4 linked regions of the Homo sapiens genome follow. The protein of the gene in region 1 interacts with the protein of each later gene in a biochemical or structural test. Each region holds a gene or a part of one and is shown in the gene's direction. Other genes may lie near its edges. The genes, in order: RALBP1, SYNJ2BP, DLG4 and RALA.

What was found.
Region 2: the proteins of RALBP1 (region 1) and SYNJ2BP form a complex in vitro, tested with the Homo sapiens proteins (2 studies listed by BioGRID and IntAct, with this or other methods).
Region 3: the proteins of RALBP1 (region 1) and DLG4 interact in a biophysical measurement, tested with the Homo sapiens proteins (2 studies listed by IntAct, with this or other methods).
Region 4: the proteins of RALBP1 (region 1) and RALA form a complex in vitro, tested with the Homo sapiens proteins (3 studies listed by BioGRID).

Annotation. Positions count from the first base shown.
Region 1 is NC_000018.10:9,470,280-9,478,725, forward strand, and holds the start of RALBP1 (ralA-binding protein 1), read left to right. Parts: upstream 1-5,233; 5' UTR 5,234-5,412; intron 5,413-5,415; exon of another isoform or gene 5,416-6,007; intron 6,008-7,985; exon of another isoform or gene 7,986-8,243; intron 8,244-8,446. UniProt on the Homo sapiens protein: Multifunctional protein that functions as a downstream effector of RALA and RALB. As a GTPase-activating protein/GAP can inactivate CDC42 and RAC1 by stimulating their GTPase activity.
Region 2 is NC_000014.9:70,406,539-70,414,090, reverse strand, and holds part of SYNJ2BP (synaptojanin-2-binding protein), read left to right. Parts: intron 1-7,552. UniProt on the Homo sapiens protein: Regulates endocytosis of activin type 2 receptor kinases through the Ral/RALBP1-dependent pathway and may be involved in suppression of activin-induced signal transduction.
Region 3 is NC_000017.11:7,193,628-7,201,179, reverse strand, and holds part of DLG4 (disks large homolog 4), read left to right. Parts: intron 1-4,127; coding exon 4,128-4,423; intron 4,424-4,604; coding exon 4,605-4,707; intron 4,708-4,845; coding exon 4,846-4,960; intron 4,961-6,684; coding exon 6,685-6,861; intron 6,862-7,179; coding exon 7,180-7,216; intron 7,217-7,308; coding exon 7,309-7,336; intron 7,337-7,465; coding exon 7,466-7,513; intron 7,514-7,552. UniProt on the Homo sapiens protein: Postsynaptic scaffolding protein that plays a critical role in synaptogenesis and synaptic plasticity by providing a platform for the postsynaptic clustering of crucial synaptic proteins.
Region 4 is NC_000007.14:39,626,312-39,633,863, forward strand, and holds part of RALA (ras-related protein Ral-A precursor), read left to right. Parts: intron 1-5,584; exon of another isoform or gene 5,585-7,552. UniProt on the Homo sapiens protein: Multifunctional GTPase involved in a variety of cellular processes including gene expression, cell migration, cell proliferation, oncogenic transformation and membrane trafficking.

The DNA of each region.
Region 1 (8,446 bases):
AAATGATGTTTTTTTTTTTTTGAGGTGGAGTTTTGCTCTTTTTGCCCATGCTGGAGTGCAATGGCGCGATCTCAGCTCACCGCAACCTCCACCTCCTGGGTTCAAGCAATTCTCCTGCCTCAGCCTCCTGAGTAGCTGGAATACAGGCATGTGCCACCATGCCCGGCTAATTTTGTATTTTTTAGAGAATACAAATACAGAGACGGGGTTAGAGACGGGGTTTCTCCATGTTGATCAGGCTGGTCTTGAACTCCTGACCCCAGGTGATCTGTCTGCCTTGGCCTCCCAAAGTGCTGGGATTACAAGCGTGAGCCGCCCATGCCCGGTTGATGTTTGATATTTAATAAAAATTATAACAGCTGATATTTACCTATGATCTCTAATATAAAAAGTGCTACCATGCTCTTTCTCTCATTAATACCATTTTTTTTCCTAGTTTAACCCAGTTTATTTCATATGGTCTTAAATCTTAAAACTATTTCTTCTGTATAGATAAGTAATTCAAATCATTGGCTTATTTCCCTACCAATATGTTCAAACTTTATCTGTCAAATTCATTGAATGGTAGTTCCTGAACATCATATAGCAAGACAAAACAAACAAAAAAACCTAAAACACTAAAAAAAAAAAAAACCCCAACCCTTCCAATATTTAATTTAATAAAATTAGTGCTTTTCTGCAGTATGATTTTTGTCTCAATAATCCAAATTCAGGTTTCATTAGTTTTAGCAAATGAAGTAAAATAAAATGTTATGCTAAAAAATATACATACACACCCCAAAGGCTGAGAGATATACCAAGCTATTATTAATGGTTATCTATATGCAGGTAAAATTTTAAGATTTTTGTTTGCATGTTTTCTTTATGTAGGTATTCTTTTTTAATAATTTTTATTTTATTTCAATAGTTTTGGGGGTACAGGTGGTTTTTAGTTACACGGGTAAGTTCTCTAGTGGTAATTTCTGACATTTTCGTGCACCTGTATCCTGAGCAGTGTACACTGTACCCAATACGTAGTCTTTTATCCCTCACCCTCCTCCTATCCTTTTTCCCTGCCCCGCCCCAAGTCCCCAAAGTCCACTATATCATTCTTATGCCTTTGCATTCTCATAGCTTAGCTCCCAAGTATAAGTGAGAACACACGGTATTTGGTTTTCCATTCCTGAGTTGCTTCATTTAGAATAATGGCCTCCAGCTTCACCCAAGTTGCTGCAAAAGACTATTTCATTCCTTTTTATGGCTGTGTAGTATTTCATGGTATATATATATATATATTATATATATTATAATAATATATGATATATCATATATATTATATATATTATATAAGATATTATATATATATCACATTTTCTTTACCCACTCATTGGTTGATGGACACCCAGGTTGGTTCTATATCTTTTGAATTGCAAATTGTGCTGCTATAAACATGTGTGTGCATATGTTTTTCATATAATGACTTCTTTTCCTTTGCATAGATACCCAATAGTGGGATTGCTGGATCAAATGGTAGTTCTACTTTTAGTTGTTTAAGGAAACTCCATACTGTTTTCCATAGTGGTTGTACTAGTTTACATTCCCTGTTTTTTCTTTTTCTATTTAAAGCTACAGTCTATGTCCTTGAGTCTGGCTTATTGCTAAAAATATCCTCTTTTTTATGGATGTGTCATTATAGCTCTTCTTTTACTTCATTTTTCTGTTTTTTGAATACGATAATTTCTCTATCTTCAAGTACACCTTTTTTGCCATCTCAAATCTTTCACTGAGATTATGTAATACAATTTATATTTCTCTTCTATATTTTTCAACTCTAGAAATTTCATTTTTATAGAATCATTTCCCTATTGATATCCTTTATATGTTAAAGAATTATCATTATATTTTCCTTTAATTCTTTGAAAAATGTTTACTTTTTAAAACATAATTATAAGACCTACTTTCAAGAGTTTGCTTCTGAATCCAGTATTTGAGCCCAATGGGTCTGTTTCTATTGGTTGCTATTTTCTTCCTCAGAGTGGGTGACACTTTACTGTTTCTTTGCATAAACCATGATTGTTGGTTGAAAAGCAGATATTTCATATATTGCAGCAATTCTAGATGTTTTATTTTTCTTAGTTTTGTTGTTGTTGTTGTTGTTGTTTTATCTTCCTGGATTTACACAGATTTAAAATCTGTCTCTATATGGCCTGTGGCTGCTGGTATCTTTGCTCTGTTTTTCAATTCACATTTTTATATTTACCCTGACTTTCTGGGCTTTGTCCCTGTGTTTGCATAGCTGTGGCTAGTCAATGATTTGGCAGTGGTTGCACTCAAACACCTTGATTTGGGAGTCTTCTTCCCTCTGCTAATGGATCTGTGTGTGGATTAAGGAATACATTCACAGTTGCCACCAGTTCTCAAGTCTCCCTTGGATTTACTTAACAGGTCTCTTGGGTCAACCCCAGGCAGATGCATAGTTTCCCAATCAGTCAGAGATGTGTGGAGATGTAATTAACAAATAGAGTATTTCTGTGGGGAAGTAGACTCTATAAAAAAGGATGATATTTCTAGAGTTGAAAAGTACAGGCTGGAGTGAGGTGGTGTGACCATAACTCTTCAATGACTCTTATTTCTAAAATCTCCCTGTTATATTTTTGACTGGCTTGCCATTTGCCCCACCTGGGACTGTAACCTCAGGTAAGCACAGCTGTGGGTTTGCCCTGTTCATTTCCATATGAGTTTGTCACTTTTAGTTGGCAAAGCCTTGGGTTTTTGACCACCCGCCCCAAATTGAGTCCATCCCTTTGGCAGCAAAGCTGCTAGTTTTCTTGGCTATTCCTACCCACACTGGCAAAACTGCAGTTCTGGTGCAACAGGGTGGGAGAGAAGCAGCCTCAGGCCAGAAGGCCACAGACATCTACTGTCCCTGCTAGCTGTTTCTGAAGAATAGATGTTTCTCAAATTGTTTTCTGTATTTGTTTGATTTCCAGTGCTCTGAAATGGTTGTTTTTGCCAATTTATCCAATTTTATACTGGTTTTGTGTGCAGAGAATTGCTGACTATGCCACACAGACATAGCTAAAAGTCCCTTCCACAGTTTTTTACGTAGGAACCTGTATTAGTTAGGACCTTTCAGAGTCATGTAAAAGAAATTCAACTGAATTAGTTAGGACTTTTAGAATTTTAATATGAACTGGCTTAAACAGTACAGGAAATTTGTGGTTCACAATTCTGGATAGTCTGTAAGATGGCCTTGCTCACAATCCCGAATAGTCTATAGGATAGTCCATAGAATCAAACAGGTGAGGTTTGATACTGCAGCTCAAATCATGCCACCAAACACAAGGTTCTTCTCCATCTTTCCCGCATTCATTTGACAGTACTGACTTCAACCCCAGGCTCTACTTGTTGCTGTCCCTCTAAACTCCCATCCCTCTAGGGTTTCCCCTTATAGGAGGAAAACGGTTGCCACATTTCCAGGCATCATATACTTACACCATGCTAGAGGAGCAAGGAAGCTACAGTTTACTGGAAGCCTCAGCCCCAGTCTTTGTGGGTTCATTGTTTCTGACTGGGCTTGTGACCATCTCTGCTGCTAGAGGGAATGGTTATGTTGCCTGGCTTAAATGGAAGGAATAAATGCTCAAGTGGCAGCCAACAAATACATTCAATATCCACACATATTGGCTCCAAATAATAAATCAATGAATGAGTGGGCTCACCCACTTAGGCTCACATGCTCACAGCACTTAAAGAGCTCCACAAACCATGCCCTCCAAATGAAACCACGGTCTACATTCTGCCAGCTCTTTCTCCCTTTCCATTTCTCCTTTCTTCTCTTTCACACCCTCACCTTTGGCTAGGCCACTCGATGTTGCAAGAAACACGTCCATCAGCAATTGCCTCAGTAGAAAACTCCCTCTGCTCCCCTCCTGCATCCACATAGCAGCTTCAGGCAAGGCCTCCATAAGGCCCAGCGTGGATCAGTGCCTGCCCCTTGGCCGAATCAGTGCTGTCACAGGCAGAGAATTGTCACTGCCATGCTCACCTGCCCAACCCAGTGGTCAGAGAAGACTGTTCTACTGCGAGAGGAGCCATGAGAAGGCTTTTCCGAAAGTCAAAGACCAATGGCTACCTCAGACCATCCCGTATCCACTCGTGGGAGGCCCCTGAATGAATCTAAGGCCCCAGGGGTTGAACTTTACTGAGTAGGGAGCGCAGAGTACTAGGGACAAATTTACCGCCCGCTTTGAGGAAAGCTGATGTGGGAGCAGAGAGCAAGATGGATAGCAGCGGCCAATCTAAACGGGCAACGAAGTGCCACAGAGTGCTGCACGTAGGAATGCGAGTGACAGGTAGGGTCGTCTATTCCAAGTCCCTCCTCTCCCCTAATAAACTGCCACATTTCAGAAAACACGAAGACTGCTGAAGCCGTTTCCAGCCTTCGCTACGCATTAGCAGAGCAACTCAACAAGCCTGGGTGAAAGGCTTCTCGAAGAAATTCAGTTATCTCTACTGCCAGCCAAACACGGACTGGGCAGCTTTCCTCGGGGGCTGCTCGGTAACTGCTGAGCCGGGGGCGCGCTGAAGCCCTGCAGAAGCCCACACCCGCTTCAGGAATTCCGTGGATGTTCCCGACAGAGGTTTATTCCCGCCTATCCCTACAGGCCCACGGCGCTCTTTCCTCCAATCCCACACCCAGTCGAAGGCGGGGCAGCCGCCCCACCCAGCGGCCAGCCGGGCGGCCCCCAGTCTGGTTTAACTGGTTGGAACGACTAAAGCACGCTGGCGCAAGGAAAGCTCTCAACTTCGGGAGCTGAGGCGCAGGCTGGCCAGAGCGTGGAGAGGAAAGCCCTTTCCATCCTCAAGGCCGTTGCAGGAGATGCCCGCGAGCCACCTTCGCCAGCACCACACCGGGGTAAGCCGTCCGTCCCCGAAACCCGCAAGGCCACCGACTGCGCAGGCGCCTGCAGAGCACTGGCCCTCGGCGCGTTCTCTCGCGCTCTTCTTCAGTCTCCTCAGCGAGCCTGGGGACGAAGGGGGCGCGGTGCCTCCTGGGTGTTGTAGTTTGCTTCCTTGGCGAGAGGCCTTCGGGCTGGCTGGACGCCGGGGCCTTGGGAACTACGCCTCCCAGCGCGCCCCGCGCGAGAGCCCAGGTCGCCTGCCCTTGACGGCTTCAGCCGTCTGAGCGGAGAGGAGGATCCGGGAAGCCGGCTGCGGCGGGAGGAGGGAATGCGCGTGCGCGCTGGACCGCCTCGTCCCGTTCCGTCCCAATCATTGTAAACAGGCAGAGGCTGGGCGGGGTGGGAATGGGGCGCCCGAGGCCGGCCTGGGGCGCAGCGCAGGAGGCGGCTCCGGTGGCTGCGGCGGCAGCGTGAGCGCGAGGAGGCGGAGGCTGCGGCGGGGCGGACGGTCGCGCGGCGGCAGGCACAGGTCAGTCGCAGGGAGCGGTCGCGTGCTAGGGTCGCGGCGATACCCCTGGAGTGCCCGAGGAACCCTCTCCCGCGCCGGCCTCGCGCCCGCGTCTGTCAGGCAGCGTGTGGGGCTCGGTGCTCGCAGCGCTCGGGTTTGAAGTTGGGGGTGGGGGGCGTGGCTGCCCCTGGCGTGGGTTCCTCCCCGGAAAGCTTCGCCCCAGTTTTCGCCCCCCTTGGCCGTGCGTCCCTCCCACTGGCCGACGGGCCTCCCTTCGTGGCGTCCTCGTTTGTGGTGCTCTCGGGGGCCGGGGGTGGAGAGTTAGGAGTCCCCAGGCCTCGGGGAAGCTCTTGGGGGGCGCCTGGACAGAGGCTAGGGGACCCAGCCCTCACGGTTGGTGGATCGTGCCCGGCATAGTGGCCAGGCTCCAGGGCTTACCCAGGGGACCAGGACAGGCTCCTGGTGTCGCCCACCGCTGGCACTGAGCAGTGGGCGCCTTTGGGTGCTGCGATCCTTCCTTCAGGTTTCAGTGGGAATGGACAGACAGATCTGAAGTTGAAAATTCTTTTCACAACTCATGTTCAACTATGTGTGTTGTCAGAATGCTCTTAATGAGGTCAGTGTTCTCCCTCTTTTTTTTAAAACTGATCGTTGTGAGAGTGAAACAGGTTTTACAGAATATTTAACACCTCCGTCTTCCCTGAAGTAATTCTGCTGTTTCAAGTTTTGGGATTCAGTATTACAAAGCCTTCCTCTTGAGCAAGGCCTAGTACAATTCTTCAAGGTCCCTAGCATGTTAATTCGAGGTGTTTTGAACGTGCATATACAGGAAGTGCAGCCGTTTGGCCGTTGAGTTAGTGCTCCATCCAGCCTTGTTAGAAAAGCTTTCGCTGAATTTTTAATTTAGTGGAGTGGTCATGTTCTAATGCTGCAGTACTTTGGGGAGTATTCCATTATACTTGGCAGTTATTAACGAAATACTGAACTTGTGATAAGGTTTTGTTTTGGTGCTCAGCATTTCTAAATGAATAAGTGGGACTGTGAATAAGAAAGATCACCTCACTTTCTGTTTTTAGAGTTATTGTGGTCATTTGATAACTCCTTTCTGTCTTTGTGAAAATAATTACTGTAAGCTGGAGTGGCGGTAGTAGGGGTAGGAAGGAGGTCAGTAGAGTGGTTTCCACCTCTCATTCAAAGTATCTGGTAGATCCAAGTGGGGTAGGTTAGTTAACAGTAGCTTTTTTTTTTTTTTTTTAGTTTTTTATTTTTTGAGACAGAGTTTCGCTCTTGTTGCCCAGGTTGGAGTGCAATGGCATGATCTCAGCTCACCACAGCCTCTGCCTCCTGGGTTCAAACGATTCTGCTGCCTCAGCCTCCTGAGGGGATTACAGGCATGCGCCATCACGCCCGGCTAATTTTATATTTTTAGTAGAGACATTTTCTCCATGTTGGTCAGGCTGGTCTTGAACTCCCGACCTCAGGTGATCTGCCCGCCTAGGCCTCCCAAAGCGCTGGGATTACAGGCGTGTGCCACCGCGCCCTGCCAACAGTAGTAGCTTTTGAGAAGTGACTCTTTAAACAAGGTATCTCGAAACAATGTAATACAACTTAGTTTGCTTTCTCTTCAGGATATTGTTTCTAATTATGGATCTTATCCAGACTATTTCTCCCCTAATTTAGAATAGGAAAGTGGTATCAGAAAGTGCATAATAACTTTAATTTGTACAGTTATATTTGCATAGTTGTTTGCTTGGCAAGAAGAGATCGGGCCCAGCATGTAACCCAAAAGAATATTGTTTCTGTTTTGAAAGATCCCTGATAGAAACTTATGTTAGTTTGTATAAGAGGGTACAAGGAAAAATGCAGATTATTTAGAATACAGGAATTACTATGTAGAAAGTACTGTGACCAGGTGAAGAGGACTTAAAGATACAGAAGGCAGTGTTCCTGCCTTCAGGGTAGTTGAACCTTATCTCTTACTTTAACTGTCAACAAGTACAAGATTGTTTTGATTGAAGAACATATGCGGGTACAGTGGATGTACAAAGGAGATAGTGGTCAGTTTCTTAAAGTGAAGAAAAGAGCTGAAGAAGAGGGAAACTGTAAGGAAAAACTATGTAGAAGGTGATGAAAATCAGGAGTGTACAGGCATAGAAAGAATGGGCATTTAGGTAGAAGGAGCAGTGTGAGAAAAAGCATGGGAGTCTAAAATTAGAGAGTAGCATCTGCAAAAATAGCAAGTATAATACAGGGTGGTGGCAAGACCTGAAACTGGGGAGATAGGCAGAGACCAAATTATGGATCTTGCAGACCATCAGAATAATTACAATTTTATTTTATAAGCAAATAGGAGTCATTGAGAGGACAAAGAAGAGACCTAAGCCAGCTCAGCCCATTTTTAACCCTCTGCTATAGGTCAGGCACTGTATTAGGTACTGTATATTTTATGTCCTTAAGCTTAAAGAAGGCTTAGTCATGACTAATGCAGAAATTGGGGGGCTAGGGCAGGGATGGGGAAGGAACTTTTAGAGGGAAAGGTGGGCAGAAACGTAGGTGAGAAAGAACATGGAACACTTTTTTTTTTCCCAATACAGACACCATCACTCAGTTTTATTGGTTTTGTCTTATTAGCCTCTGAAGTAGGCAATTATTGGTGTGAACATACATTTTGAAAAACATCTGGAGTCAAGAGTGCACGAGTGTCAACTCAGTGCAAGTACTGTTGGTAAGCATTATGTCCCGAGGATGAAATCGGAGGACCAACAGGCCCAGGAGGCTTCACAGCGAACACCACATGCCTCGCGCCCAAAAGGACAGCAGACCGCGCTTCAGAACGGAACCGCCTTCTCCATGTAAACTTTTGACGTAAACTGTGTGCTTCAGGGTGGCCTCTTCTTCTCCGAGATCCTCTCCTGCGTCCCGAGTTTGGGAATGGCCCGGCCGTGCTCAGGCCCAGGCGGTGGAGGCCTCGGTGTAGTAGTGCCGTGCTTGTCGACGTTCCCAGGAGTCCGGGTTCAGAAGCCCCCTCTCCGGTGGATTGGCAGCTTCGCGGTAG
Region 2 (7,552 bases), on another chromosome or scaffold:
CATGAAGATATATAGGGAGGAGACTGTCTCAAAATACCACTAGAAACTAATCACCACTAGAAACTTCCACATAATTTTGATGGTCCCATAAGGATCTTTCTATCTATGGAAGAAATATGAAAATCCTCTAAGTATGCATTTCTTTTGTAGGCAGCATTGCCCACTCTTTGTGTTTGTATAGCTGTGTACTCAGGAACCTGATGTTTAATCAGATCCGAGAACATGTGTACCATTCCCCCTTTGTGTTCTGTCAGGGACAAGAATTGTGGATATTTCCAGTGTTTGGGCCCATATTATAAGGCAGTCGAACCTGTTCCTGACTGATCTGCTTACTGCAAGGGAAGTAATGAAATCTTGGGGAAATTATGACAACAGAGTGAAGAGGCAAAAGAAGCTTGACATGTATTAGGTTGGTGCAAAAGTACAATTACTTTCTTTTGTTCTTCTTTTTTTTGAGACGCGTCTCACTCTGTCACCAGGGTGGAGTGCAGTGGCACGATCTTGTCTCACTGCAACCTCTGCCTCCCAGGTTCAAGCAATTCACCTGCCTCAGCCTCCTGTGTAGCTGGGATTACAGGCATTTGCCACCATGCCCGGGTAATTTTTGTATTTTTAGTAGAGACAGGGTTTCACCACGTTGACCAGGCTGGTCTTAAACTCCTGACCTCAAGTGATCCACCTGCCTTGGCCTCCCAAAGTTTTGGGATTACAGGCGTGAGCCACCCCGCCCAGCCATAAGTACCACTACTTTCAATGGCAGAACCGCAATTACTTTTGCACCAACCTAATAGCATGGAATCTCTCCTGTTGTCTGCTTTCTCAACTGTAAGAAGGGACTTGGGCTAGATGACTTCAGAGGTCTCTTCCATCTCTAAGAGTTCATTCTTTGGCTCATTTTATGATTATTTATGTTATTTTATGTTTCCTACCATTTGGAACTTCGTTTTGTTTTTATTTCCTGCCATTTTAGACTAATAGTATGAGCTGAAGAATTACAAAGGCAGTGGCTACAATCTCAAATGTCTTCAAGGGTTGAACAGTTTACCTTTTATCTTTAGTGGAATCTTGTTTTTTTCTACAGGAGTCCAGCTTGATTATAGTATCTAAGGCTCTCACTTTTTCTTTATCAAATTGAAAGTCTCTTAATGCGTCTCAAAACTCAGTTACTCTAAAAAGTGTGACAAGACTGTTTAATATGTTTTTTTGCACTGCAACAGGTAAGAGATTGGCCATAAAGACAACCTTACTGTACATTGAGTACTATGATTAGGAATCTTGTTTTTAGGTCCGAGTCCTCAATGGGTTTCAGCAAGTTACTCCTGATATGCCATCTTTAAAGAGGGAAGAGAATATTTATTTTCTTACTTTCTTTAAAGGCCTTGGAAAAGATGATGGGTTGATGGCAGTGTTTTAATAATGAATACTAAAGGAGGTATTGTCTTTCCGGTAGTGTGCTAGTTACTATATATACATATATATACTGTATATATACTATACATACATATATATACTGTATATATACTATACATACATATATATACTGTATATATACTATACATACATATATACTGTATATATACTGTATATATACTATACATACATATATATACTGTATATATACTATACATACATACATACTCATTTAATCTTCACAGCAACCCTGAGTAATAAATATTTAATCCACATTATTAGATTGGGAAATTGCCTTGGGGAGGTTAAGGACTTGCCCAGTTTCTAATGCCAGTAAATTTCAAAGGATTTTTAACCCAGGTGTGTTAATTCTGCTATACCATATACTACTTTCCACTGCAGTAGCCATGTTTAAGAAGTTGACTGCCAACCTTTCCCCTGACCTTTATTTTATTATATCATGCCTTATTCCCAGAAGCATTTGAGGCATCTTAAATGACTAATACAACCTACAGTGGAAAGTTTTTATTGCTTGCTCTTGATAGAGCTGAGGGCATATCAAGGTGAGTACCTAAAATCAAGATGCCCCATTAAGTTCTATCATTTAAGCCTTGTAGACCTGTCATAGGCTTTGGGTTTCATGCTAACTGAAACTGTTGCTAGCAGTTTTCTGATCTATTCCTTTCTTCACATATCAAATAGATGTGAGGCTAAATGCTATATCCTTGCCCTATTTTCTCTTGCTTACACAAAGTCTCGCCTTCATGGAGTTTACAATCCAATAGAGATATGATGTTCACATATGAAAAATTAAATCTCACTGCAAAGGTGCAGATAGTTAAGGAAAATGATGAGGAGGTAGTTAGTGGGAGGGCAAAGGAAGTGCGGAAAGGAGCATGGTAATCTGACCCTGTGTTGGGAAAGTTCAAGAATGCAGACACTGCTGAGAACCATTAAAATGGTCAATTAAAAGAACGTGGAACTTGTGGGTCTTCTGGAATGGACAGGCTTTAGGCTAGGGCCAGAGTCAGGGATGAGTATGGCCTAAGCAATAATAGAGAGAAGAAAATAAGCAGAGCATATTCTGAGGTTAGTGAGTAAACCAGCCTGGACAGAAGGAAAGTTTCCTTTAGGAGATTCAAGAGAGAAGAGGTAGCTGAGTAGTAACCTGAGTAGGTGGAGATCAGATTATGGAGTCTTTAGTGTTAGTATGGAAACTTAATCTTTCTCTAAAGTTCTATCTGGATTCTTTCTACTTCCTAGCCATTGATTAGGACTCAGTTCAACAGTTAGCTCCTCCAGGAAGCAGGCTTTACCTAGGATAGATGTTCTCTTATTGTCTATATTATACATCATTTACAGATTGCCTGTAATGTATTCCCATGTATTGCCAAGCTAAGCACTGTATCTTGTCCCCTTGTAAAAAGGAAGAGATGAAATGGTTATTATCCCCATTTCAGAAATGAGGAAACCTTGACTTCTGCATTATACAACTCTTTAAGTGAAGATTTCGATCCAGGTCTGTGTGACTTAAAATTCCAAGCCCTGAATCATTATAAATAACTTTTTTTTTCTATATGCTTTCTCACTTATGTCTCCTCCTTCTACTTCACTTTGAGCTCTTCTGAGTCAAAGAACATATATTTTATTTCTTATTTTCTTTCATTTAACTATTATTTTAGGTTCAGGGGTACATGTATAGGTTTGTTATATAGGTAAACAGTGTCATGTGGGTTTGTTCTACAGATTTTTTCGTCACCCAGGTATTAAGCCTAGTACCCATTAGTTATTTTTCCTGATTCTTTCCTCTCAACCTCCACCCTAAGTAGGCCCCAGTGTCTGTTCTCCTCTGTGTGTCTATGTGTTATTATTTAGCTCCCACTTATAAGTGAGAACATGTGGTATTTGGTTTTCTCTTCCTTTGTTAGTTTGCTAAGGATAATGGCCTCCAGCTGCATCCACGTTCCTGCGAATGACATGATCTTGTTCTTTTTCATGGCTGCAAAGTATTCCATGGTGTATATGCACCACATTTTCTTTGTCCAGTCTACCATTGATGGGCATTTAGGTTGATTCGATCTCTTTGCTGTTATGGATAGTGCTGCAGTGAACACATGCATGCATGTGTCTTTAATGTTTTTTTAATGCTTTGTCTAGTGCATGACACACAGTGGTCAGTAAGTGTTCATTAAATGACTGAGCAAACTGATAGATATCATAATAATATAATGGAATGTTTTTATATTTATTTATTTATGACATAGGGTCTTACTTTGTCACCGAGGCTGGAGTGCAGTGGCACGATCTTGGCTCACTGCAGCCTTGACCTCCTGAGTACAAGTGATCCTCTTGTCTCAGCCCCTCAAGTAGCTGGGACTACAGGTGTGTGTCACCACACCTGATTAATGTTTTTATTAGCCATATTTTTCATAGAGACGGGGTTTCACCATGTTGCCCAGGCTGGTCTCCAACTCCTGAGCTCAAGTTATTCACCCACCTCGGCCTCCTAAAGTGCTGGGATTACAGGCGTGAGCCACCACACCCAATGTACTTATTTATTTTTGAGACAGGGTCTTGCTCTGTCCCCCAGTCTGGAGTACAGTGGCACTATGACAGTTCACTGCAGCCTCGACCTCTTGGGCTCAGGTGGTCCTCCTGCCTCAGCTTCCTGAGTAGCTGGGACTACAGACATGCACCACCACACTTGACTAATTTTTTTTTTTTTTAATTATTTGTAGAGACGAGATCTCACTATGTTGCCCAGTCATGCCTTGGACTCCTGGGCTCAAGTGATCCTCCACCTCAGCCTCCCACAGTGCTGCGATTCCAGGCATGAGCCACTGTGCCTGCCATAATGGGATGTTTTAAATAAAGAGAAGCAGTAACATGATCTGTTTCAGCTTTCAAAAAGTGGTAAACATGGTTCTTCACTAAATACAATTTGAGAAAGAGAGAATGAGGATGGACACATTGTATTATGATGGATAGGAAACTGGCTAAGATATCAGAAACAAGGAGAAGGAGTAGATGGAACACCTCTTGGAGAGAGTCAGGTAAATGGAACAGTTCTCTAAAGATTGCTTCAAGGATCAGTATTAAGATCTTTTCAAAACAATACTAAAGAAAAACTGTACAGTAAAATATCTAGGAATTACTTTGGGGAAATAGAAAGGCAAGCTGATAGATGTTCAACTGCAGAAACATTTTGCGAAGCCATGTGACTAGCCAGAAAAGTGGTCAATGATTACATGTGATAAGTACACAATTATTTATTGAGGGAAAAATAGCCAAACTATACTTAGATGATAGGGTCAGAACTGCTGGTTTCAGAAGACTGAAAAGTAAAGTAAAACTATTTTTTAAAATTTATTTAGCATTTATTATGTGCCTACACTATGATTAGGAATCATGGACACTAGAATAAAGAATAAGAAATGATCCCCATTTTTAAGAATTTTGCAGTTCAAGCCAGGCATTGTGGCTCTTGCCTGTAATCCGAGCACTTTGGGAGATCAAGGAGGAGGACTGCTTGAGGCCAGAAGTTCAAGACCAGCCTGGGCAACATAGCAAGACTCCCATCTCTGCCAACAAAACAAAGCAAAACAAAACAAAACATTAGCTGTGTTTGGTGGTGCATGCTTGTAGTCCTAGCTACTTGGGAGGCTGAAGTGGAAGAATTGCTTGAGCCCAGGAGTTCGAGGTTGTTGTAGTCCTAGCTACTTGGGAGGCTGAGGCAGGAGAATTGCTTGAACCTAGGAGGTGAAGGTTGCAGTGACCTGAGATCGTACCACTGCATTCCAGCCTGGGCGATACAGCGAGACTCAGTCTCAAAAAAGAAAAAGTGCCAGAATGCTTGAGTTCAAATCCTTACTCTATCACTCACTCACTGTGTGACCTTGTGCAAGTCACCTCACTTCTATCTGCCCCAGTTTCCTCAGCTATAATATGAGAGTATTATTAGAATCTACTTATAGAGTTGTGAGGATTCAATGATTTTTTTTTTTTTTGAGACGGAGTTTTGTTCTTGTTGCCCAGGCTGGAGTGCAGTGGCGCAGTCTCAGCACACTGCAACCTCTGCCTCCCGGGTTCAAGCGATTCTCCCGCCTCAGCCTCCCAAGTAGCTGGGATTACAGGCGCCCGCTACCACACCTGGCTAATTTTTCTGTATTTTTAGTAGAGATGGGGTTTCACCATGTTGGCCAGGCTGGTTTCTAACTCCTGATCTCAGGTGATCCACCCATCTCGGCCTCCCAAAGTGTTGGGATTACAGGTATAAGCCACCACGCCTGTCCGATTTTTGTTTTATAAATAATTTGTAGTGACGATTCTGTACTGTCTTAAGCACTTTACCACAAAACAACTCATTTAATTCATTGAAGTGCTTTAAGGATACTGCTATGTGGGGAGTAGACTTTATGGGGCAAGAATTGAGTCATCTAGGAAGGGTAGGGTAAGCTGTGTCAGTAATTTCAGGGATATGGGGCTTCTGTTTCTCTTTTTCCCTCCTTTTATGCCTTAGTTTATAAAAAAACCCTATTACTGCAATAGTCCTTCCCCCTCCTCCAAAAAAAAAAAAAACCTGTTAGAAGCTCCCAGAAACATTTTTAACCTTGTGAGATTTCCCTAGAACTGGAAATGTTAGAAATTCCTGACCTAGGTGTAATTTTCAATTCCAATAATAGTCAATTGACACCAGTTGGGCTTTGTGTATGTACTAGGTACTATATTGGCACAGGAGGTACAAAAATGAATATAAGCTAATTACATTGTCTTCTAGGAACGAATATTGCAATAGGGTAATGAGACAATTAAACAAGTAATTTCATGTTTTCAGGCAAAGGGAAGAAGACATCCAAAGTCACGGAGATAAGCAGTAGCTGTGGGCGGGGATGATAGGGTGAAAAGCGATAGCAAATATTAAATTTTGTTTACTGTATAATGCAAAGTAGAGAATGTCCAAAGATGGCTAGAAAGGTAGATTATGGTGATTTTGAGTTTAAACTTCATCTTCTATGTTTTTTTTTTTACTTTGATTTTATCTTGGGGATATACTTAGAATTTATTTAAAAATCATTTTATCATATTTGCATAGGAAATAGTAGAAAAAGTCTACTGTAAGGAGGATACTATAACAAATTTTTTTTTTGCTTAATTAACACAAAATTGGTGCTTTGAGAAACTTTAGCCTTTTATTATTGACTAAGTTGGTGCAGAAGTAATTGTGGTTTTTGCCATTTTTTTTTTTTTTTTTGAGACGGAGTCTCGCTCTGTTGCCCAGGCTGGAGTGCAGTGGCACAATCTCGGCTCACTGCAAGCTCCGCCTCCCAGGAGATCACGCCATTCTCCTGCCTCAGCCTCCCAAGTAGCTGGGACTACAGGCGCCTGCCACTATGCCTGGCTAATTTTTTGTATTTTTAGTAGAGACATGGTTTCACCATGTTAGTCAGGATGGTTGTGATCTTCTGACTTCATGATCCACCTGCCTCGGCCTCCCAAAGTGCTAGGAGTACAGGTGTGAGCCACCGCACCTGGCCGGTTTTTGCCATTTTTTATAGCAAAAACTGCAATTACTTTTGCACCAACCTAATAAGTAGGAGTCATTAATAAATGTTTAAAATGCTTGCATTTTTGTACATAATCACCAGGTTCATCTCAACTTTTTTGAGGCATGATTCACATTCAATGAAGTGCAGGTGTAATCACCCAATGGGTTCTTCTTGCTCGCTGCCTAGACTGAGCCAATTTATCAAGGCAAGGGAATTGCAATAGAGAAAGAGTTTCATTCACACAGCGCTAGCTGTACAGGAGACTGGAGTTTTATTATCAGTCTCCCTGAAAACTCAGGGATCAGGGTTTTTAAGGATAATTTGTCAGGTGGGGGGTTGGAAAGTGGGGATCACTGATTGGTCAGGTCAGAGAAGAAATCATGGGGAGTTGAAGCTGTCCTCTTGTGCTGTGTTGTTTCTTGGGTGGGCACTACAAAGACTAGATGAGTTAGTTTATAGATCTAAGTGGTGCTGCCTGATCCATTGAGTGCAGGGTCTGCAAAATATCAGAAGCACTGATCTTAGGTTTTACAATCGCGATGTTATCCCCTGGAGCAATTCGGGGAAGTTCAGAATCTTGCAGCCTCCAGCTGCAT
Region 3 (7,552 bases), on another chromosome or scaffold:
AATGTGGCTATTTGTTGGCTGGGCGAGGTGGCTCATGCCTGTAATCCCAACACTTTGGGAGGCCAAGGCGGGCGGATCACCTGAGGTCAGGAGTTTGAGAACAGCCTGGCCAACATGGAGAAACGCTGTCTCTACTAAAAATACAAAAAAAAATTAGCTGGGTGTGGTGGCGAGCGCCTGTAATACCAGCTAATCCTGAGGCTGAGACAGGAGAATTCCTTGACCCTGGGAGGCGGAGCTTGCAGTGAGCCAAGATCTCACCACTGCACTCCAGCCTGGGCGATAGAGCGAGACTCCATCTCAAAAAAAAAAAAAAAAAAAAACCAAAACAGGCTGGGCGCGCCGGTGGCTCATGCCTGTAATCCCAGCACTTTGGGAGGCCGAGATGGGTGAGTCACCTGAGGTTGGGAGTTCGAGACCAGCCTAACCAACATGGAGAAACCCCATCTCTACTAAAAATACAAAATTAGCCGGGCATGGTGGTGCATGCCTGCAATCCCAGCTACTCAGGAGGCTGAGGCAGGAGAATTGCTTGAACCTGGGAGGCGGAGGTTGCGGCGAGCTGAGATCGCGCCATTGCACTCCAGCCTGGGCAACAAGAGTGAAACTCTGTCTCAAAAAACGACAAAAAAAAAAAGGAATGTGGCTATTTGTAAGATAAATAACAGGAATTAGTAACTTCCCAGCAATAAGAAAATGTAGTGAATAAAAAGCCCCCTTTTGCCATAGAAAAAATTTCTATAAAATTATTAGAAATAGAAACTTGACAAGAAATGTAAGATTTGTATGAAGAAAATGACAAAACTTTACTGAAAGACATAAAACAAGACTGGAAGGGGTGAGGAGTCACACCGTGTCTCTGGATGGAAAAACTTAATATGCTAAAGATCTCAACCGGCTCCAAATTAATCTACATTCCATTCAATCCTAATCAGAATTTTAATGTTGTTTCCCTACTGGGAACTTGGAAGGTTGACACTAAAGTTTGACTGGAAAAATTTGTGTGGAAAAGCTAAGACATTTTGGAAACAAATAATGAGGTGTGGCAGCCCCTACAAAATATGAAATAATACTGTAAAACCATATTAAAATCATGTGGTACTATTCCTAAATACCATAACCTAACAAAAGGAACCTGGGCTCCTTGGAAGAAGGGTCAATTTAAAATCTTTTTTTTTCTTTTCTTTTTTTTTTTTTTTTGAGACGGAGTCTCGCTCTGTCGCCCAGGCTGGAGTGCAGTGGCACGATCTTGGCTCACTGCAAGCTCCGCCTCCCGGGTTCATGCCATTCTCCTGCCTCAGCCTCCCGAGTAGCTGGGACTACAGGTGCCCACCACCACGCCTGGCTAATTTTTTTGTATATTTTAGTAGAGATGGGGTTTCACCGTGATAGCCAGGATGGTCTTGATCTCCTGACCTCATGATCCCCCCACCTCGGCCTCCCAAAGTGCTGGGATTACAGGCCTGAGCCACCGTGCCCAGCCAATTTAAAATCTTTGGCAATAAATCTGTAAGATGAGCTTCTAACTTCTTTCATACTAGAGAGCAAGGAAGGTATCCAGGACTAATAGGGTCTCAGCAAAGACACAGGATCCAAACTGAAGGTGCTTCTACTGTCCAGTGAAAACTCGTTAAATATATTAAAATCTTTAAGATCATAATAATACTTAAAAATATTTTGGCTGGGCGCGGTGGCTCATGCCTGTAATCTCAGCACTTTGGGAGGTTGAGGCAGGCGGATCACCTGAGGTCAGGAGTTCGAGACCAGCCCGCCCAACATGGCGAAACCCCGTCTCTACTAAAAATACAAAAAATTAGCCAGGCGTGGTGGTGGGTGCCTGTAATCCTAGCTGCTGGAGAGGTTGAGGTGGGAGAATCCCTTGAACCTGGGAGGCAGAGGTTGCAGTGAGCCAAGATCGCACCACTGCACACCAGCCTGGGCGACAAGAGTGAAACTCCATCCCAAAAAAATAAATAATTAAAAAAAAAATTGGAGGATGCTAGGCAATCTCATTCATTCTGAAATTGGTGAATGAATGGAAAGAGGCATGCAGAGAGAGGCATGCATTTATCCTCCCTTTCATGTACCAGCTACCTCAGAGAGTAACCAACAGGTTGACATAGGGCTGTTTTTTTGTTTTTGTTTTTGCTTTTTTTTTGTTGGAGGCAGGTCTTGCTTTGTCACCCAGCAGGCTGGAGTGCAGTGGTGTGATCTTGGCTCACTGCAACTTCCGCCTCCTGGGCTCAAGCGATCCTCCCACCTCAGCCTCCCGAGTAGCTGGGATTACAGGCGAGTGCCATCATGCTCAGCTAACTTTTTTTTTTTTTTTTTTGAGATGGAGTCTCACTCTGTCACCCAGGCTGGAGTGCAGTGGCACGATCTTGGCTCACTGCAACCTCTGCCGCCCGGGTTCCAGCAATTCTCCTGCCTCAGCCTCCCGAGTAGCTGGGATTACAGGGCCCTGCCACTGCGCCCAGCTAATTTTTGTACTTTTAGTACAGATGGGATTTCACCATCTTGGCCAGGCTGGTTTTGAACTCCTGACCTTGTGATCCACCTGCCTCGGCCTCCCAAAGTGCTGGGATTACAGGCGTGAGCCACTGCGCCCAGCCTCAGCTAACTTTCAACTTTTGTCTTTTGTAGAGATAGGGTTTCACCATGTTACCCAAGCTGGAGGAATTTTTTTTTTTTTTTTTTGAGAGGGAGTCTCGCTCTGTCACCCAGGCTGGAGTGCAGTGGCACAATCTTGGCTCCTTGCAACCTCCGCCTCCTGGGTTCAAGCAATTCTCCTGCCTCAGCCTCCCGAGTACCTGAGATTATAGACGTAAGCCAGCACGCCCAGCCTATTTTTGTATTTTTAGTAGAGACGGGATTTCACCATGTTAGCCAGGCTGGTCTCAAAGTCTTAACCTCAAGTGATCTGCCTGCCTTGGCCTCCACAGTGCTGGGATTACAGGCATGAGCCATCGTGCCTGGTCGAGATTTTTCTTTTTTACAGAAGAATTCCCACTAGTAAATGACAATCACCACCATTTTGCAGTCCTTGATACTTATCAGAACCAGGCGGTGATTGTCAGTGTGGCTAAAACTTACCTGAAAGGCTGATGGGGCGCTAGATAATGGATGGACTGGGCTGATGACCCTGAACCTACCATTAATCTTACCTGACAGAAAGACAACCAGGCATTATTGCATCCTGTGGTGATGCTGTAGGAAGAACGTAGCGCTACCTATGAAGTATACAGGAGTTACTAAAAAAAACTCTGAATTGAACTTGAAACTGATCAAGCCTCCAGAATGAACTGCCAGTTTACAGGAGATACAGGGGCAGAGGCATAGGCTAAACAAACCACAGGAGGGTAAGCAGTAATTTCCCTGTTAGAATTTCCCTCATAGGCTGGTCAAGGTGGCTCATGCCTGTAATCCCAGCACTTTGGGAGGCATAAGCGGGTGGATCATTTGAGTTCAGAAGTTCCAGACCAGCCTGGACAACATGGTGAAACACTGTCTCTACTAAAAATACAAAAATTAGCTGGGCATGGTGGCGCGCGCCTGTAATCCCAGCTACTTGGGAGGCTGAGGCATGAGAATCACTTGAACCTGGGAGGCAGAGGCTGCAGTGAGCCAAGATCACGGCACTGCACTCCAGCCTGAGACTCCTTCTCAAAAAAACCCCAAAAAAACAAAAGAATTTCCCTCATAGAATGTGGGAAATTCTTTTAGACAAATGACCTAGTTTTTTCAACGAATGGATGGCAGAGAGGTGGGGGGAAAAAAGAGGGAGAAGAATTTTATGGATTAAGAGATTCGAGTGACACAGGAACCCAGAGAAAACCCCCAAAGCGTAATATTAATGCTCCCTTTGACTTCCCCATCCCTGGCATACTGAGGACATATAACGTTCAAATCCTTTATCCCCTAGGACAACCAGCCTCTGATGTCACCTATAAATTCCTGACCCCTGATGTCACTGTGATCTGATATCCCCTTACCACCCCACCCTGGCATCTCTGGCAGAATATCTTCCCTTCCACCTAACTTTGGCTCTTCTGGCACCCTGGGGAGAAGGTTGGGTGGCGGGTGCTGTTTCCCTCCAGGCACTTTCATCTCTGCCCTGTCTTCCTCAGCTTATTCCCAGCACCTGGACAATGAGATCAGTCACAGCAGCTACCTGGGCACCGACTACCCCACAGCCATGACCCCCACTTCCCCTCGGCGCTACTCTCCAGTGGCCAAGGACCTGCTCGGGGAGGAAGACATTCCCCGAGAACCGAGGCGAATTGTGATCCACCGGGGCTCCACGGGCCTGGGCTTCAACATCGTGGGTGGCGAGGACGGTGAAGGCATCTTCATCTCCTTTATCCTGGCCGGGGGCCCTGCAGACCTCAGTGGGGAGCTGCGGAAGGGGGACCAGATCCTGTCGGTGAGGGAAGGCCTGCCCCTACCTGCACCACCCCCTCCCCACAGGGCAGAGCGCAGAGCTCTTGGGGAGGGGCCTGGATGGGCTGCAGCCGAGTCCTCTTGCGGGACCACTCCCTGCTCCACCTGGACCCAGAAGTGCTGCCTCCTGTCTCTGGTGACACAGCCTGTCGTCCTCTCTCTAGGTCAACGGTGTGGACCTCCGAAATGCCAGCCATGAGCAGGCTGCCATTGCCCTGAAGAATGCGGGTCAGACGGTCACGATCATCGCTCAGTATAAACCAGAAGGTACCAGGCCGGAAGTTCCTTGTCTTGTGAGCTGAAATGGCCCTTAGAACTCTTCCTCAGCTGATGGCTTCAGTAGGGGAGGACAGGGGTGACAGTAGGATGGGGACAGAGCTCAGAAACCTCCCTGTCCTTCCTCAGAGTACAGCCGATTCGAGGCCAAGATCCACGACCTTCGGGAACAGCTCATGAACAGCAGCCTGGGCTCAGGGACTGCGTCCCTGCGGAGCAACCCCAAAAGGGGTTTCTACATCAGGTCAGAGGCTTCCCGGGCTGGACTCCTCAGCCCCTCTGCGTTCCTGGGCACTCTGTGCCTGGCCCGGGCCTCAGCCGCTCCTCTTCTCCACCCTGCCTGCTCTAGCTCCCCACCCCAGGCCTGAGGCGCAGCCAGGGTTCATGGGCTTGGCTGCACAGGTTAACATTTGAAATACTCCCTGTCGATGGGAAAATAGCCTCTGCCCCAAGTATCCCAATTGCCTTCTAGCCCCTGGTCATCCCAGCACTTCCCCGGGACTCCCAGGCCACCCCACAATTTGGCGTCTCGAAGGTTAATGCTTGGTGAAGCAGGGTCCTCTAGGGTATTTGGAGTGTTGCCCCAGCCTTCACGTCCCTGTGGGCAGTCCCGGAGACGTGGGCCGCAGCTCTGTGGTGCCTGCCCCCGTCTCTCCAGCGGCATTTTGCTCCCCTCTTAGGGCTCGTCTCCATTGACTCTTTTTGTGGCTTAGGTTTCTGCCAAAACACACCTCTCTCCCGCCCCCGGGGGTCACCCCTCCACTTCTGTCCCTGTCTGGCCCTGTGGCTTGCATGGCCTCGTCTGCCGCTGCGCTCTGCAGATGTCTCTCGGAGGTGCTGGCCCTGGCTGACCTATTTCCAGAGGTCAAGACCTGCACTTCTGGCCATTGGCTTTCTGGCCATCTCCACTGGGATGTCCCACAGGCGTCCCACACTCAACATGTCCCACGCTGAGCTCATCATCCTGCTGTGGGCCTGGGTTCCATCTTGCTGTGCCAGCAGTTTCCCTCTTGTTGGATGGCATCACCAGCCACCCAGACACTGGCTCCCACCTGAGCCCTTGCTCTGCCCTTCCTCCCTGCTCGGGTCCGGTTGGTCCCCAAGGTTGTTCTGACTCCCAGTGACCACAGAGGTTGTGTAGTGGCTCCCAGGCGGAATGTCATCTGGTTGTCACACTTCCAGGGGGCCCGGGGTCTCCTCCCTCCTCTCCAGGCCCATTGCTTTCTTCTGTGTCTTCATTACTTCCCTGGTTCTGACCCCAGGGGTTGTGACTTACTGATAGAAATTTGATACTGGTAAGGGTAACCATTATTTGGAAACACGGGACATTTTCTTTTTCTTATGAATTTGGGCAGATTCAGGGTTACCCCTGTGACTTTATGATGTGCGTGTGTACTGCACACTGCTTTCTGTTTTTCTTTTTCTTTTTCTTTTTTTTTTTTTTTGAGACGGTGTCTCGCTCCGTTGCCCAGGCTGGAGTGCAGTGGCGTGATCTCTGCTCACTGCAAGCTCCGCCTCCTGGGTTCATGCCATTTTCCTGCCTCAGCCTCCCGAGAAGCTGGGAATACAGGCACCCGCCACCGTGCCCGGCTAATATTTTGTATTTTTAGTAGAGACGGGGTTTCACCATGGTCTCAATCTCCTGACCTTGTGATCCGCCCGCCTTGGCCTCCCAAAGTCAGCTGGGATTCCAGGTGGGAGCCACCACGCCTGGCCCAAACTGCTTTCTTGAGAGGGTCAAGTTCAAGCCCTGCCTCTGGAAACTGTGCTCAGTGTGGACTGAGTGATGGCTAATAGTTGTTATGAGTTATAGTCAGCGTTTGGTCCCCACACAGTTTTGGGTTCCTCGGCATCCATAGCTCCCATGGGAGTGCCATCTGCAGACCTCTGGGCCGGGTCTTTGGGTGACTGGGGCATCCTTCCTGGAGTCCTCAGCTGGGCTCTGACCGATAGCCACTTGCCCTCCAGGGCCCTGTTTGATTACGACAAGACCAAGGACTGCGGCTTCCTGAGCCAGGCCCTGAGCTTCCGCTTTGGGGATGTGCTGCATGTCATCGATGCTAGTGATGAGGAGTGGTGGCAGGCACGGCGGGTCCACTCTGACAGTGAGACCGACGACATTGGGTTCATCCCCAGCAAACGGCGGTGAGGCTCCTGGGCTCTGTAGCCTTCCTGCCACAGGCACTGAAGTTCCCAAGGTCCCCCGGGGTGGGCAGCCAACAGGGGATGGGTTTGCCCTCTGAACTCCTAGGGGTTTGTCTGTTGGGCCCTCCTGGGGTCCGTGGCTCCCATGAGCCTTTGGGAAGGACAACTCCTTATTGAGGAGCACAGTGTCCAGGGCTGCAGGAGAAGGGGTGTCAGCTGGCCCAGAGTATGGAGAAGGGGTTGTCAGCTGGCTCAGAGCATGGGGGTGGCAGGGGGTAGGCATTCCCCTACCCGCGTATCCCTCCATGTATCCCACAGGGTTGAGCGACGAGAGTGGTCAAGGTTAAAGGCCAAGGTAGGTGGAGGAGGGTGTGAGCCTGGGTGGAAGTGTGAGGGCTCATGGAGCTGAGCTCATAACTAACCCCGTGGCCTGCTTTTTCTTCTTAGGACTGGGGCTCCAGCTCTGGATCGCAGGGTAGGTAGGGTTAGTTCGGGAAGATGTGGGTGAGAGGAGCACTGAGTTGCTTTTGATATCCTCAAGGGGGAGACAGGGCTCCAGGTCCCCTGTTTCAGAGCCCCTTGCAGATGCCCCACCTCCCACCAGGTCGAGAAGACTCGGTTCTGAGCTACGAGACAGTGACGCAGATGGAAGGTGAGCCCTGGCCCCTGCCTTGGCCCCAGCACTTGCTGC
Region 4 (7,552 bases), on another chromosome or scaffold:
ATTAAGGTAAATTGAAGTTATTTGCCAGAGGCTAGGCACCTAGCTTGTGTTTAGTAGAGCCTAGATTTGAAAGTAACAATTGCTGAGAGCACTGAGTATTATTGCAGTTAATCCTAAATGGCTGTGGAAAAGGCAGTTCTGACTGAGCTGGAACTGGAGCTTCAGGAAGGTGAAGATACTGATTCCTCTCTCTTGGACATCAAGTGTGGCCTGGGGTTGCCAGCAGTCCTGGCCAGGTGGCCTCAAGCAGCAGCCATTCTTCTCTTTTATCTTCAGCGTGCCTACAAATACAGTGTTATCACCGTCCATGTGTGCCATGATGGAAAAATGGTTGGGCATTTTTCCCGTGGGTGTCCCGGTAAAGTATTTGGACTCAATTCTGGTGTTTGATTAGTGCTTTTTAAAGTAACAGAATCGTCCCTATTTGAGAGGAATACCATAAATCTATTTGTAGTGACCTTTCCTTGAAATCACATTTTTTTTAGTTCGTTCTTTCACTAATGGAAATGGGGGAGAAGCTATGGGGGACAGTAGAAAGAATGGTAAAAGAAGCAGAGATGTGCTTGGTCTGTTTTTAACCGTTTGAGACCATTAATCATTTTCTCTGGGTTTAAGATGGAGGCTTAAAAGTGGCAGAAGTCTTGTAAGGGTTTAGCTGCTATTCAGTGCTGGTAGAATTCTCTTCCCTCCTAAGCCTGTGCACTTTTTAAAATGCACTTTTAAATAGGCTTAATTTGAAGAATGTGTCCATCTCTCTCTCTCTCTCTTTTTTTTTTTTAAAAGATGTACCCTTAAGTAAAAAACAGCTGATTGTCTGGCCCCCATAAGTAACAGTTATTCTGTTTTTTCTTTAAGACATCTTTCTTATTACCTTATCGCATTCATAAGGATTTGGGTTGCCGTATAGAAAAAAAGAAATTAAAGTTCTATGGGTTTCTAAAATATGTATGAGTAAATTTTAGGTGAGAATTTGCATCTTTGATTTAATTATACGTGAAGGTGATGACTTAGTTTCTGAAAGTCAAGAGGGTAGTCTTTACAAGCCAAAAAAGGCATGCTTCCATAAAATTATACTATTCTTAAAGGCCTTCACAGCTAGGGTCCTATATTAGATGCAATAGATGTAACACTGACATACATAGTCTCCTTAAAGTCTGGGATCCAATTTTATTGCTGAATTTACTTTTGAAACTAAATGTCAGGGTTTGGTAATGTTATTTTGGACAATAAGACATAGTTAGATTATAAAATGGCGTATACTCCCAGATTTATTGGGAAGGTGGGCAAAGATCCCCCAGTTTCCAAAAGTTATGATTATGGTCATCTAAGCCACAGGATCTGTTTTCTTATGTAGTTGAGAAGCTAACATAGTACTCCATTAAAAGTGGAGGTTGCCACACTGCGTGACCAAACACTGAGTTCAGCTGCCCTGTCTAGATATTCTGGATTACTACAGCAGCCTTCTAGCCTATGGTTGGAACCCATCTGATACTTTTCCCATTCTTGCTTAGAACAATGGTGATATTTCTCTGCTTAAAATCCTCTTGTGGCTCTTTTTTGCCCATTAATAAAATTCAAACTCCATTTATCCTTAATCTCATATACAAAACCTTCAAGATGTGCTCCTTACCTAACTCTCTTTTTTCCCCTTTATCTTTCATATTTTTCATTTTTTTTCTTACCTAACCCTTTAGCCTTATCTCTCTTCTTGGATGATCTTTTGTTCTACCAATACCCAGCTTCTGGAATGCTAGTGTTTGTTTACTCAGTCCTCCATTTCCTCTTCCTGGAATTCTAGCCTCTCTTCCTTCCCCTAATCTAGTATACTCCTACTGGTCCTTCAGAACTCAGTTTAGGTTATAATTCTCCAAAAAATTACAATTAGGTTCTCTCTCTGGATCCCATCCCTCAAAAAACAAAAAACAAAAAACCTTTAAGACTGGGCTGATTGCTTCTCTTATGTGCTGTCATAATATCTGTTACAGCTCTTAACTACACTGGAGAGAGTACTTTCATTAGCCTATTGTAAATTTTGTTGACAGCAGTCCACAGTAACCTCATAACTACACACACACACACACACACACACACACACACACACATTCTTTCTCTCTCTTAAAGGCCTTCTTCGTAGGCCTTTATCAGTCAAGTGCCCAAACTTTCTCAATTCATGGCACCCTTATTATCGCAGTAATTTTTTTCACAGCATCCCTAGGTCAAAAGAAACACCTAACAGTTTAATTTTTTTGTTTTTTGTTTTTTGAGACGGAGTCTCGCTCTTTCACCCGTGCTGGAGTGCAGTGGCGCGATTTCGGCTCACTGCCGCCTCCACCTCCCAGGTTCAAGCAATTCTCCTGCCTCAGCCTCCCGAGTAGCTGGGATTACAGGCACGCGGCACCATGCCTGGCTAATTTTTTGTATTTTTAGTAGAGACGGGGTTTCACCATGCTGGCCAGGCTGGTCTCGAACTCCTGACCTCGTGAGCCATGTGCCTCAGCCTCCCAAAGTGCTGGGATTACAGGCGTCAGCAACCATGCCTGGCCAGTTTAATTTATTAAGTAATTAGGTCTGAACAACTTAATAAGTATGTATCTCCTAACAAGTCAGTAGCTGTGTGAAAAGATAAAATACATAAACTAAAATCAGTAACTTTCATTCTTAACTGCTATCGTGTATGTACCATAGTTTTCTCGACTAATGTCCTGTTTGAACATTTAAGTAATATCTAATATTTTGCAATTACAAATGATGTTACAGTGAAAAACTTTGTGTACATGTATCTTTGTATTGTTGGAGAGATACATCTTCAGGATAAATGCATATGTAGAGTTGTTAGGTACTGTCAAACTCCTCATCCTGTGGGGTTATACTATTTTGCATTCCTACCAGCAGTGTATGAGAGTAGAGTGCTTATTTCCTCACAGCCTCACCAGCAGTGTTTTGTCAGCTTTTGAATTTGTGCTGATCTAATAGGTAAGAAATTGTATCTCAGTGTATTTTCCATTTGTACTTCTATTACAAGTGAATTGAACATGTTTTCATATGTTTAAGGGTCATTTTAATATTTATTTTTATTGTTCATATTATTTGCTCACTTTCTTTTCTTTTCTTTTTCCTTTTTGAGATGGAGTTTCGCTCTGTCGCCCAGGCTGGAGTGCAGTGGCACGATCTCTGCTCACTGCAACCTCTGCCTCCCAGGTTCAAGCGATTCTCCTGCCTCAGCCTCCTGAGTAGCTGGGATTACAGGTGCACGCCACCACGCCTAGCACGTTTTTGTATGTGTGTATGTATTTATTTATTTATTTTGAGATGGGGTCTCACTCTGCCAGGCTGGAGTACAGTGGCGCCATCTCAGCTCACTGCAACCTCTGCCTCCTAGGTTCAAGCGATTTTCCTGCCTCAGCCTCCCGAGTAGCTGGGACTACAGGCGCGTGCCACCACGCCTGGCTAATTTTTTGTACTTTTAGTAGAGATGGGGTTTCACCGTGTTAGCCAGGATGGTCTCGATCTCCTGACCTCGTGATCCACCTGCCTCGGCCTCCAAAAGTGTTGGGATTACAGGCATGAGCCACCGTGCCTGACCCTAATTTTGTATTTTTAGTAGAGATGGGGTTTCACCATGTTGGTCAGGCTGGTCTCAAACTCCTGACCTCGTGATCCGTCCACCTCAGCCTCCCCAAGTGCTAGGATTACAGGCGTGAGCCACCATGCCGAGCTTTCTTTTACTTTTTTTCTTTTTTTTGAGACAGAGTCTTGCTGGACCCTCCAGGCTGGAGTGCAGCGGTGCAATGGTGCGATCACAGCTCACTGCAGCCTCAGCCTCCAAGACTCAAGTGATCTTCCCACCTCAGCCTCCTGAGTAGCTGGAATTATAGGTGCATGCCACCATGCCTTGCTAATTTTTTTTTTTTTTTTTTTTTTGTCAAGATGGGGTTTTAACATGTTGCCCAGACTGGTCTTAAACTCCTGGGCTCAAGCAGTCTGCCCACTTCAGCTTCCCACAGTGCTGGAATTACAGGCATGAGCTATCGTGCCCGACCAATTTGCCCATTTTCTATACGACTTTCAGTCTTTTTTCCTCTCAGCTTTGAAAAGTTCTCTCTATTTAAGAATATTAACCGTTTAATTTTGACATATGTTGCAGATATTTTTGCTAGTCGTCTTTTGGCATTGCTTGTGGTGATTTTTTGCCATGCAAAAGATTGTTTTTATATAGTCAAATATATAAATTTTAAATTTACTGCATCTGAAGTTTTAGTCATATTCAGGAAACTTCTTACCTTCAGGTTATAGAGAAATTCACACATGCTTTCTTCTGGTACTCATATAGTTTCATTTCTCACATTTAGTTCCATTCAGAGTTTATTTCTATGTATGATATAAGGAATGCATCTAATTTTATCCTTTTCCAAGTGGCTATCCAGTTGCCCCAATGACATTTATTTAAAAAAGAAAAAAAAATTCTTGTTCCTTCTATATGCAGTTGGGTATATTTTTTTTCTATTGGATTATCTCACCATTCATGCACCAGTACCACATCATTTTAATCATAGAGGCTTTGTAGTATGTTTTAATGTTTGGTAGGGCTAGTCACCCATTATAGCGCTTCCTCTTCATTGTTTTTCTTGCCTTCTTGTATGAATTTTAGCATCAATTTGTCTAAGTCTATGAAACAATTCATTGCTGGTTTTTTGTTTTTGTTTTTTTTTTTTTTGAGACAGAGTTTCACTGTGTCACCCAGGCTGGAGTGCAGTGGTGCGATCTCAGCTCACTGTACCCTCTGCCTCCCAGGTTCAAGCGATTCTCCTGCCTCAGCCTCCCATGTAGCTGGAACCACAGGCGTGTGCCACCATGCCCAGCTTATTTTTTTATTTTTAGTAGAGACAGGGTTTCGCCATATTGGCCAGGCTGGTCTCAAACTCCTGGCCTCAAGTGATCCACCTGCCTCGGCCTTCCAAAGCACTGGGATTACAGGCGTGAGCCATGGTGCCCGGCCTCATTGCTGTTTTTATTGGGATCACATTGAACTTATACTAACTTATGAAGAACTGACATCTTTTTTTTGGAGAAAGGGTCTCCCTCTGTTGCCCAGGCTGGAGTGCAGTGGTGCCATCATAGCTCACTGCAGCCTTGAACTCCTGGGCTCAAGTGATCCTCCTGCCTCAGCCACCCAAGTAGATGATAGTACAGGTGTGTGCCACCATGCCCTGCTAGAGAATTGACATCTTGATGGTATTGAGACATCTTAACCTAAAACAAACAATGTCTTTTTATTTTTTGCATTCTACTTTTGTGTCTTTGAGGAATGGTTTATAGTTTTCTTCATACAAGTTTTCAACATTTCTTGCTTATTCCTAAGCTATTTTATCTTTTTTGTTGCTATTATAGTTTTCTTATCATTTATGTATTTTAACTGGTTATTGTCCATTTATACGAATATTGTTGATTTCTGCATATTTTCCTGCCACCTTGCCAAATTGTTACTAAGTTGACTATGTTAGCCTCTTTTGCATTGCTATGAAAGTATACCTGTGACTGGGTAATTCATAAAGGAAAGAGATTTGTTTGGCTTACGGTTCTGCAGGCTGTACTGGCATGACACCAACATCTGCTTGGCGAGTTGAGGCCTCAGGAAGTTTTTACTCATGGAAGAAGGCGAAGGGTGAGCAGGTGTGACACATGGCAAAAGAAGAGTGAGAGAGAGGAGGAGGTTCTGGGCTCTTTTAAACAACCAGCTCTCATGTGAACTAATAGAGTAAGAACTTGCTCATTACTGTGAGGACAGCACCAAGCCATTCGTGAGGAATCTGCCCTATGACGGAAACATCCCCCGACTAGGCCCGCCTCCAACCTTGGGAATTACATTTCAACATGAAACTTGGAAGAGACACACATCCAAATCATATCAATTACTTCCATCATTGCTTCTCTCAGACTTTCCAGATATACTATTGTGTCATCTGTAAATAGTTTTTTTTCCTTCTTTTCCAGTGTTTATGCCTTTAACTATTTATCTAATTGCACTGACTAATATCTCCAGAACAAGATTAAATAGCAGTGTAACAATGTCTTTAATAGAGGTACTGATTGCTTCATTGTATTATCTTCACCATGGATATACAAATGTGTACATTTCAATGTAGATAATAGTTTGGCTATGTATATACCTTACAAGGGTTGCACACAGTCCTTCGCTGTGTCTTTAAGAGATGCTTATGGAGATTGGCTGGGCGTGGTGGCTAAGGCCTGTAATCCCAGTACTTTGGGAGGCTGAGGCTAGCAGGTAGCTTGAGCTCATGAGTTTGAGACCAGGTCGAGTAAGATGGTGAAACCCTGTCTCTACAAAAAGTACAAAAATTAGCTAAGTATGGTGGCATGTGCTTGTGGTCCCAGCTACTAGGGAGCTGAGGTGGGAGGATCACTTGAGCCCAGGAGGGGAGGCTTCAATGAGCTGAGATCATGCCACTGCACTCCAGGCTGGGTGACAGAGTGAGACCCCATCTCAATTTTTAAAAAATTAAATTTTAACAAAAGATACTTAAGGAGATGGATGTGGTAAGAAGCAGGAAAGGTCAACTTTCCTAGTGCATGGTAGGAAAATACGGTGTTTAGCATGGTAACTGCTCCATGGTTTCTCAGTTTATACAAGCAGCCCTGAGTTTTCTTGCTTCTCTACACAGTTTTCTGGATTTCATTTTGTTTTTTACCCAGCTAGTTATAGATGCCACAGGGTGACCTCCTTTTCCCTTCTAGGCTAAAGCTGTCATAGGTCTATGAAAATCTAGGGATTCCCTTCTAGGCTTCACAGTCTTAAGTGGTGTGTGTGCTTTGCAGATGAGCAAGGCTTGTTTTGTATTGATATGTTGCTGCCTTGACTTCTTGGATTTCTAGATCATATAGCAAGGTAAATGTTAGTCTGTTCTCGCACTGCTATAAAGACATACCCGAGAATGGGTAATTTATAAAGAAAAGAGGTTTAATTAACTCACAGTTCCACATGGCTGGGGAGGCCTCAGGAAACTTAAAATCATGGCAGAAGATGAAGCAGACGTGTCTTACATGTCAGCAGAAAAGAGAGAGAAGGGGAGAGAGAGAATGAGAATTCATGAGAGTGAGCAGGAGCGAGCATGTGCATGCAAGAGCAGGAAAAACTGCCTTATAAAACCATCAGATCTCGTGAGAACTCACTGTCACGAGAACAGCATGGAGGAAACTGCTTCCATGATCCAGTCACCTCCCACCTAGTCCCTCCCTCAACAAGTGGGGTTATGGCGATTATAATTCAAGATGAGATTTTGGTGGGGACACAGCCACACCCTATCAGCAGGTTTGTAATTAGATGAGTTTATCCACTGGGGGGTAATCCTAGAGTACATATCTGTGGGTGGTTCTTGACAAGTGTGTAAGGCCTGGGACATCTGGCTTTGAGGCAGTTCTTTCTCCAGGTTTTATTTATGCGAATCCACTCATCTGGCAGGAATGATTTGTTGGTGTGAAATCAGGTGTTGGCCCAGCATCCTGCACATGTTCCATCCACATGGCAGTGATGGTC